Linked DNA regions of Homo sapiens: region 2 is linked to region 1. The links come from fine-mapping of genetic effects on gene expression. A gene starts in region 1. The other region holds a variant in brackets. All regions are shown on one strand. Distances are from middle to middle.

Region 1 (5,389 bases):
ATAGATCAGCACATAATTGAAGCTCAAAAATGCGACTGCATTGTAGATGCCTTTGGCATAAGAGAATGCCATGGTGTGTTGTGGCCTGCTGCTTTTAATGTTGAGAGGGATTAATTGAAGAATAGTACCATCATTAACCTAATTTCTATTGAGAATCATCTGCCTCTGTAAAACTAAGGTCATATGGCTAAACTTATGTGTAACAGTGTGTTTAGCAAAAAAGAAATATGTAGATGAATAACCTAATAACTATGTACTGGTCTCGTAGAGGTGAAATGTTGAACTATTAATAGGAACTTTCCACAATAGATCATCTCAACTTTTCTGATGTAGTTTTAATTCCTCCACTAATTTATGCCATCTTTGGCAATCACTTAACTTTTCTCTGCCTAACCCTATTATGGCCTAACTTATGTAACTGAACTAGTAGTAGAAGGAGACACAAAAGTGGAAAGTAAATTCTCTACATACTTGGTGCAAATAATTTATTCTATGAAGAAATGTATTTTCTCATAGACAGGTTTGAAAACCATAGTACTTAAAATTTTACTTTACAAAAAGAAAAAAATACAGATACTAGTTCATGAGACAAGAGACATGGACCAAACACACGTTTACGTTTTTTATTTTTTTATTTTATGGCTACTACTAAAATGCCACCATTCATGTACTGCATAACAGTGTTTCAGTCAAAGAAGAACCTCATTTCTGGCAGTGGAATCATAAGATTATAATGGAGCTGGAAAATTCCTGTCTCCTAGTATTTACTATACTATGCTTTTTATCTTTAGGTTAAAGTGCATTCTTTCTACCTATATAAAAAAGTTAACTGTAAAACAGCCTCAGGCAGGTCCTTCAGGAGGTGTTACAGAAGGTGCTGTTATCATAGGAGATAGCTCCATACGTGTTATTGCCTCTGAAGACCTTTCAGTGGGACAAGATGTGAAGGTGGAAGACAGTGATATTGATGATCCTGACCCCGTGTAGGTCTAGGCTAATGTGTGTGTGTTTGTCTTAATTTTTAACAAAAATGTTTAAAAAGTAAAAAGTAAATAATTTCAAAAATAGAAAAAGCTTATAGACTAAGTATATAAAGAAAGAAATATTTTTGTACAGCTATATAGTGTGTTTGTGTTTTAAGCTAAGTGTTATTAAAGAGTCAAAAAGTCACAAAAAAAGAAGTTTATAAGTTTAAAAAGTTACAGTAAGCTAAGGTCAATTTATTCTTGAAGAATGAAAATATATGAAAATAAATTTAGTGTTGCCTAAGTGCACAGTGTTGATAAAAGGTACAGTACTGCATAGTTGCGTCCCAGGCCTTCACATTCAACTCCCCACTCACTCACTGACTCACTCAGGGCAACTTCCAGTCCTGTAAGCTCCATTCATGGTAAGTGCCCTATAGAAGCATACCATTTTTTATCTTTGATTTTTTTTTTAATGGAATGCTTCAGAAATTCATGTGTCAACCTTGCTCAGGGGCTGTGCTAATCTCTGTATTGTTCAAATTGTCCTAGATGTGTTGCCAAAGCAATCACTTTTACACTGTTTTTGCTGTAGCTTTTCTATGTTTACATATATTTGTACACACAAATACCACTGTGTTACAATTGCCTACAGTATTTAGTACAGTGACATGCTGTACATCTTTGCAGCCTGGGAGCAATAGGTTACACCAAGTAGCCCAGGTGTGTAGTAGGCTACACCATCTGGGTTTGTGTAAGTACACTCTATGATGTTTGCACAACCACAGATATCACAGGGTCACCTAACGAGGCATTTCTCAGAAGTAGTCTTCATTAAGCTACCCTACGACTGTAATGAAACGCTAAGTTTTGAGCCAGGAATTTGTGTATAGAACACTAGGAATGGCTTCATTAGTATCATGCATCTTTTTCATTAAACTGTGAGTCCCTTTGAGAGAAAGATTGTGTCTCTGAACTTAGTGGCCTAAATTTCTAGAATTATGTCTTCAAAAAGTTGCCCAGTTAGGCGTCTCTGGGGAGTCAAAACCACAACTCCCAGAATGCCGTGCTCCCTTAGCGCGCTCAGGCGCGGGGAGAGAATGTCCCATCACCCACCGCGCCAGATCGAGACCACAGTTCCCACTACACCCAGGGACTCCGCGGAAAGCTATCAAACACCACCTGTTGCCATAGCATCCGGGTCGGGTGAACCAATCCGGGCGCCCTCGCCGAACAGAGGCGGGCAGTTCGCATCGCCGACCAACCTGAGGCGTTTTTGTTGTGGCGCGTGACCGGAGGAGGCGGGAGCTCAGGACCGGCGCCTTCTCCTTGCTTCTGGGGGTCGTGGCCTTGCTCCCGCTGTGCGGGAAAAGAATCCAGGCCCTTCCACGCGCGTGTGGGTGCGGGGGCCCCGAAGTGCTCGTGGTTCCCCGCTAGGTCTCCGCTGGGGCAGGAACCGGAATCATGGGTGGGACCACCAGCACCCGCCGGGTCACCTTCGAGGCGGACGAGAATGAGAACATCACCGTGGTGAAGGGCATCCGGGTGAGTGCCCGTGGACGGGCGGAGGGCCAGTGGTTGGACTCGGACCCCAAGGCCCCATCTTCTCCGGACCCGCTCAGCCTGGGTTTCTCCCGTCCTGGACCCTAGCGTATTAAGGCCAGAAGCCCAGGTGTCTGGGAAGAAGCCTAGAGTTTCAAGACGTGGGACATTCATTCAGAGATAGTTCCTGGTTGTGCCAAGTGCTAGGCACTGCTGGGGCGGGCGGGGAATGCCAGGTTGAATTATACCCTGCAAGGGCTCACAGTCTACTCGTAACTGTACTGCTCCCTTGTTGCAGGACCGTATTTGAAACCCATACCTCGGTGTACTTGTCTGTGAAATGGTTTTCCTGGGTTCAGGACCCAAACCCTGCTTTTCCACTGTGCACACCCTGTCTCCCAGGGTGAATTGGCATTTTAAGGATTGCCTTTGCTTTGTGTCATTTAGTGCTCTCCCTCTGATAACACCCCCTCCTCCCACCCACTCCCCACACCCTGTCATCCTCCCTCCCAGCCCCACAGTCTTTTCTGACCTGCCTGGGGCGGCTTCTGGCTTCTCCCTGCTTCACTTTCACTTGATATCTCCTCTTTCCCAGGCGCCTCCTCTGTGACCTGCTGCGCCGAAGTTTTGGATTAGGCCCAGTTGCTTCAGGACTAGTGTCTGCCAGTCTGATAGGGGCTGAGATGGGTTTGCAGTTTTTCATACCAGTAGAAGTAATGTAGTCATTTCTGACCAACGTTGTAGAGCACTTTTTTTTTAATGCCCTTTGCATGCACCTGATACATAAACTGAAAACCTGGTTTTTCTCTAGGGTGTCAGTATACCAGCACTAACTTCATTAACACACTCTCCGCTGCGCCTGAATTTGGAGCCTCACATTTTTGGACGTATGATGCCTGAACCTAGTAAATAAAGCAATTTTGACTTCAGAAAGTTTTATAATAATTTATATATTTTTTTCTGTTATCAACCAGCGTAAATAAATTACATTTGTAAATTATTTTTAACAGTTGTTACCAGGAAATAAAACTTCTTAAATATTTAAAATGTTTAAAAACTTTTTCTTCTGAAACTGTTACCTTGAGAATAATTTATTAAACTTTTCTTCATAGAAACTCAGACTGTCGAACTCAGTTTTTGGTCTGTGACCAGTATTTCTTTATATCATGCTAATTAATGGTAGTACTACATTTTGTAATAAAATATCTGAGGCTGTATTCTTTGAGTTATTGTGTTTCAGTTAGTACTCTTTGGAGTAAAAAATTACTGTAAACTTTAAGTTTTATGCAGAGATTTTAAGACTCTTGCCATTAGGCTTTCAGTACGCAACTCAGAGTGAAAAATAATTAAAAGACAAAGCAAAATAAGTTTTGAGTGAGAAGACATTGGTTAGAAAAAAATGTATAAATCCATATTCTCGTGCTTTAGTACAGACACAGTGCTAACAGCAAACAAAATCGAAAGAGAATGTGGCCACAGCACAGAGATTCATATCAAGTATTAGATAAGGTTGGATGGAATAACTGTGACAGCAGGGATAGGTATTCTATTAAAATGGAAAAATTGTCTAAAAAACCTTTTTAAGATTTTTGTTTTTTAAAAAGAAATGTCCTTTGGTCATATAACTTGACAGCATTCCTCATTTTTTTCCTTTCTTATATAGTACATTTTACCTGTATTGCTAACAGTTCAAGCATGATCATTTTTACCTCTATGCTTTTCTTCAGAATATACCCTTCACCTGGAATGCCCTTGCGCTGGTCTCCATTGCTTCAAATCCTCCTTTTACATGAATGTTTTGCAATCTCTCTGAGCTTCAGTTTTCCCATCTGCAAAATAATGCAACTGAGTACATCCCTCAGATCTCTAATATTTTCCAGTCCTGAAATCCTGTGAGTCTGGTGGCACTGTAAGTTTCTTGTAGCCATACTTAGCCCATTGCAGTTTCCTCTAGAAGTGACATCCATTGAAGTATTGAGTACACAGAGGTCATTCTGATTTCTTTGAGCTCATGATCAAAAGAGTATCAACTTGAAATTAAACAGACCTCAGTTTAAATCTCAGGTTAGATATTTATTACTTAACCTGATTGCCTGTGTGATTTTTGTCTGGGTCTTTTGTAGATGTTTTTCAGTTGATCTTAGTATTTTTCTTGGCTTGAATTAAGCAGACATCAGTTTAAATCGCAGGTTAGTTATTTATTAGCCTGTGGCCTTTGACAATTGACTTCTTTTATTTCCTTATCCATAAACGGTAATACCATCACTTCCCTTGATTGGTTATTGTAAGAAGATGAGGTAAGGTATGTAAAGCACCTGGCACATTGTAGATTTTCATTAAAAAGGCAGCCATTATTATGATAGGGTTCCTTTCACATGCAAAGTTTTAAGATTCTTTGAAAGTGCTGTGCTGTGTAGTGGAAAGAGCATGTGCCTTGGAACCAAGCAGACCTGGGTTGGATTCTATCTCTGCCTCTCACTAGCGGTGTCGCTCTGGACAAGTCACTTTTCATTGTGTTTCCGTATTTAGTATTTCTGGACAAAGCCTACTTTGAGAATTTGACATAATGTATATCTAGCACAGTGTCTTGTACTTTGACAGTGTTTGCACTTGTGAATAATAGCTGTTATTAGAGCTGTTCAAAAGAATGGATATGTGAACTTAAGTGAACTTCAAATTTTAATAAAAATAAGAGCATGTTGTGCCCCAACAGGTGTACCTAAAAGGGTATGGACTGGGAAATGGGAGTCTTACATTCTGCCCTAATTGAGGGTGTTTTTTTGTCTAGGTCTGTTGTAGATGGTTTTTATTTCTTTATATTTTTCTTGGCTTTAAATAGTCACTTTGTTCCCTTCTGAGACATGGGGAAGGATAAGAAACCG
Region 2 (5,389 bases), 36 kb after region 1:
GGGGGGAGTTTCCTACACTTACCCTTTGGTAGTGATTTTCCAATTGTCTATGACTAGCTATTTTGATGACTTAATTTAGAATGGTGGTCCCTTTTGTTTATTTCTAAACTAGCTGCTATGATCCCTGCTTCCCTTCTGCCTCTTTACCCCTCCCTTATTTGTCACCCTTCTCCTCACTTCTCTATTAGGCCGGATTCATCTTTGGAATTAGTAAAAATCCTGCCTCTTCCAGGAAGCCTATCCTGACTATCCCTATGGAACTCTGATTACTTCTTAATTTGCCACTTACTGCACTCAGTTTTGTATAGTTATATTTTATTGTTTTATATTGTTCTCAATGATGGATTAAAATTATTGTTGTTTTGTAGTCACTTCAAGTTATATGTGCATATTATTTTCCCAGCCCAGTGTCAGAGTACTAGCAGATATAAGCAGATATAAACTACGCTTTCCCTCCCCCGCTGACTTTATCCCCACAGCTCATGGCTGTCTCCACGAAGTAAGTGATTCTGTCTGAGTAGGTATTTTTTTTTTTTTTATTTAACCTAGGATCAGACCTAAGGGAGTTTTGTTGTTGTCGTTGTTGTTTTTGAGACAGAGTTTCGCTCTTGTTGCCCAGCCTGGAGTGCAATGGCGTGATCTCAGCTCACGCACCCTCCACCTCCCGCATTCAAGCGATTCTCCTGCCTCAGCCTCCCGAGTAGCTTGGGATTACAGGCATGTGCCACCACACTTGGCTAATTTTGTATTTTTAGTAGAGACGGAAGTTTCTCCATGTTGGTCAGGCTGGTCTCGAACTCCCGACCTCTGGTGATCTGCCCACCTCCGCCTCCCAAAGTGCTGGGATTACAGGCATGAGCCACCGCGCCTGGCCCTGAGTAGGTATTTTTTACTGGGTCCAAAACTGAAGCCACTGTCTGACTTTTGGGATTATCTGTATCTCTCCTTTCTTCCTTTTTACCTCCAATCTCTGAGGATTAAAGATTTTTTTTGTCTGCATTAGCTGAGATATTAGTTTCATAATGTAGCCAATTCATTTACTATTTTTAATTCAGAATGACAAATAAACTGGATTTTTTTCACCTGTAATTTGATCTGTGATTGTTGAAACACGTAAAACATATTTGAACAAAAACATTCCAACACAGTTTATAAATGTGTTATCCTCTGTGGTAAGGACAAAGTCATGAGACTCGTTTTTGCTCAAGGATATACCACATTTGCATCTTAAATACAACTGTTAATATTCTCTTCTTGTTAATTCAGGCAGGGTAGCTTTTCCTGAGTGACAGAAATGTAGATGATTATGTGAAATAATGAGTTGATTGGTTCATATCTGGGTTGTCATTTTGGCTTTTTGGATTGTCTTATGAAAATTTTCTGAGGGCAGTACTCTTTTTTGTAGAGTTGGGATTATAAAACTGTGAAATGTTCTCTTTTACCTTTGTCTTGCCTCTGAAACATTTTTTGGGTTAAATTCTTTAAAAAAAAAGAAGTCCCATTGACTGTGTATGTGCTATTAACTCTAGCATCGCTTCCATGATCTGGTGTTGTCTAACATTTGATTCGTCCCCTTTTGTACATTAGCATATCCCAGCAGCTCGTGGAAGCATTTGTGAACGAAGAAACCGAGGCTATGAGAGATTAAGTGATTTACTCTAGACCACAGGTAACAATGTCTGATGTAAGTTTGGGTCTTCACTCCAAACCTGTACATTCTACTGGATTAAAGGTTCTTAACCTGCTTTGTGCCAAGTTGCACTTTGGCATTCTGGTGAAGCCTGTGGATCCATTTTACTTTTAAATACAAAAAATATGGCCGGGTGCGGTGGCTCACGCCTGTAATCCCAGAACTTTGGGAGGCCGAGACGGGCAGATCACGAGGTCAGGAGATTGAGACCATCCTGGCTAACACGGTGAAACCCTGTCTCTACTAAAAAACACAAAAAATTAGCCGGGTGTGGTGGCGGGCGCCTGTAGTCCCAGCTACTCGGGAGGCTGAGGCGGGAGAATGGCATGAACCTGGGAGGCTGGAGCTTGCAGTGAGCCGAGATCGCGCCACTGCACTCCAGCCTGGGCGACAGAAGGGAGACTCCGTCTCCCCCCCC[C/A]AAAAAAATACATAGCATTACAAAAGAAACCAATTATATATAATTAAAAAAACCCAAGTTTGTAATATACACTGACTTACTAGCACATTAAATAAAATGACCTGGTGTTGGGTGTATTAACTACTATTATTTCAAAGTAGTGATGAGCATGAATATTTGGAATGTCTGAAACTATTGTAATGTGTTATGAAAATGTGTGATTTCTATTGGTGACAAATCACAGGTACTGTGGCTAATACTACTAGGTTTTAGGGTATCATTCATATTTGAAGGAAATGCATACTTTATTTAGAAGTTAGTGAGAATAAAGATGCATTTTTTTTCCTATCCAAGTTTACAGATCTCTTGAATTCCCAGGTTAAGAACTACTTCATCAGATTATACCGGTCTCTCATGTTTATAAACATTTATGCCACCTGCTGGATCTGCTCTTAAAAAACAGAATAAACAATTACAAAAGCAAAAATATATGCAAACAATGTAAGACCTCACTAAAAAAAGTAAGATTCAGGCTTAAGTATTAGTTCTTGCACTGCTATAAAGAAATACCTGAGACTGATAAAGAGGTTTAATTGGCTCATGAGTCTGCAGTCTGTAGGCTCATGACTCTGCATGGCAGTATCTGCTGGCTTCTGGGGAGGCTTTGGGAAACTTACAATCATGGCAGGAGATGAAAGGGAAGGGGGTACATCACATGGCTGGAGGAGGAGGAGGGGCAGCGAGAGGTGCCACACACTTTTAAACGACTAGATCTCATGAGAACTCACTATAAGAATTGCACCAAGAGGGAAATCAGCTCCCATGATCCAGTCACCTCCCATCAGGCCTCACCTCCAACACTGGCGATTACAATTTGACATGAGATTTGGGCGGGGACACAGATCCAAACTATATCAGCATATACATATGTTGCGAGATCCTGGAGGGTAAAAATTAAAATTTACTTAATTTAAAATGGTTAGAACCTATAAGTTTAAATTATTTGTGTTTCTTAATGTTCTAGTCAGTTCTCTGCCTACCTCTCCCCTAAAGATAAAATGATCATATTGAAGTTTGTTATTTTCTTCATTAAAAAGCCTTTGCCTTCTATATTTCAGCTTCTTCTGGGCAATTTGTTTTAATGAGGGTGACTGTCATAGAGAGTTTCAGTTCAGTTCTCCATTAGTGATGACTGGTAGGTAGAGCAGAGACAGGACCTGAAATAGAATGTTAGAGTGCACTGAAATGGCATGTCTCTCCTGTGCGTCGTGTAAGCCTGAAAAGGTTTGTTTTATTGCTTTTCACTGGGTGAGTCTGAACCTCTTCGTCAGTTGTCAGGCCTGACAGCTTAAGTGTATTGTAGTTGCTTCCATCCTTACCTAAAATCTAGTTCTACTCTTTCTTTTGTTAATTAAATGGGAGGCATTCACTTAAATGCATTTTATTTCCTCTCTTAGGTGGGGAATCATAAGCTGTTTCTTCTAAACTGTTAAGCCCCTCTGTCTGAGTTGCTCCAGAGATACTAAGTAACTCGGATGCTGTTGACAGGAAAAGCTTTAGGTAGAGGGGAAAAAAACGACTGAGCACATTTACCGCTCAGCAGGGTTGCCATGCTCCCCTAACCCCGCATCATGCAGTGAGTATGTGCGTTGCTTTCCCCAGGCCAGCATCCTGGATCAGAGCTGCAGGACTTGGGAGGCAGTGCCTCAGCCCTGCTGTCAGCCTCATCTCCCGCCTGGGGAGGAGAGCTGCAGATTTGTGTGAGCTTCCATGCAGCTTCCTGGATTCCCTCTCCCAAGTCTGCCCTGCAGACCCATCCAGTGGACTGCTCTTCTGCCATATACATTCTCTCCCTTGACTCTTTCCAGCCTTGGGCTTTCTAATCATTACCAACACTTTACAGTCTTTTTGTATTTCACAAAAATAGCTTGCAAAAGCTTTTGGCCTGAATTTTTGTAACAGTCTTTTGATTACAATAGGGCTGGAGAATACTATTAACTTCTGATTATCTGAGGACAGATTATTTTAAATTTGGCTTATAAATTGAATGGTATTTTATTTTCCTTTAGTACTTCTTGTATTATTATTGTTATTATTTTGGGGTAATTATTCTCCCCACCCATTAACTTTTATTTTGCTGCATCCTATCAGGAAACTTACAAAACCTAAAAATGTAAGCATTTATTCAATTATAGGTAATGTTTGAAAGAATACAGGTCTGCCTAGGTTTGTATTTTGTACCATTCCCAACTGGGAACTTAAATGACAATGTTTTGGAGAGCGCATGCTGTTAAAAGCGCTAATGGAGAACATTTTAATTTCTATTAACAAATCAACCAATAAAACAATTATTTAAGTATTTTCTTTAAATGTCTAGTGAGTTTTGTGATTGTTAGTAGAGATCAGGCAAAGGGGTTTCAGCCCTTCAGTTGCTTTATCCACAGTTGGTTTATCACACATGCTGCTACCTGCCATGGTGATTAGACATTTACATAGTTTAAACTTTTTATTCATAGTCATGCAGTGTTTAATTTATGCCCATAATAGATTATTGGTAGAAATCTGGAAACATACGGGACACTGATGCTGAAAAGCAGGTTAATGAGCATCATAAATGTGATGATGCCTCTGAAAATTAGCGTCAGGATGCTTTTCACTAGACTACTAAAATGTATTCATTTGCTAAAATGCTCATATAGCACATTGGGGTGTGTCTCATATTTTGCTACTTAATCTTAGAAAGGTTGCTCTTCATTTATTAGGAATAAAAACTATCCTCCCCCAATTTTATTTGCATTTGCAAATAGTACCCTGAAATCTTTTATCCTGTCATAAATAAAACACAAAAGTTCTAAAATCAAATAAGTTAACTTCCCTAAGTGCAAAATGTGAGAATTCTGAACAGTAGAGCATGAAAGGGAATTTTGTCTATTTTTTTTTTTTTTTTGAGATGGAGTCTCAACCGGTCACCCAGGCTGGAGTGCAGTGGCGCTATCTCGGCTCACTGCTACCTCCGCCTCCCGGGTTCAAGCAATTCTCCTGCCTCAGCCTCCCGAGTAGCTGGGTGGGACTACAGGCATGCACCACCACGCCCAGCTAATTTTTATATTTTTAGTAGACACGGAGTTTCGCCATGATGGCCAGGCTGGTCTCAGACTCCTGACGTCAGGTAATCTGCCCGCCTTGGCCTCCCAAAGTGCTGGGATTACAGGTGTGAGCCACCGTGTCCAGTCGATTTTGTCTATTTTTGAAACTGTAACAGTTAAGTCAGTTTTGTCCACATTAAAAAATATGGTTGGTCC

What was found.
Region 2: its variant is fine-mapped to the expression of CHCHD3 in whole blood (TOPMed, PIP above 0.99).

The regions. Positions count from the first base shown.
Region 1 is chr7:133,078,978-133,084,366 of GRCh38, reverse strand. It overlaps CHCHD3 (coiled-coil-helix-coiled-coil-helix domain containing 3), which reads left to right and starts at 2,277. Exons shown (of 8, transcript NM_017812.4): 1 at 2,277-2,510. The coding sequence starts at 2,430. It also overlaps the pseudogene RNU6-92P. RefSeq lists enhancers at 1,995-2,104, 2,315-2,494, 1,910-2,544.
Region 2 is chr7:133,043,291-133,048,679 of GRCh38, reverse strand. The region is part of intron 2 of CHCHD3 (coiled-coil-helix-coiled-coil-helix domain containing 3); the gene reads left to right. Among named protein-coding and RNA genes, the nearest start is that of MIR3654, 11 kb to the right of the region's middle. RefSeq lists a silencer at 5,005-5,167. The variant C/A (reference allele first, on the strand shown) is at 2,109.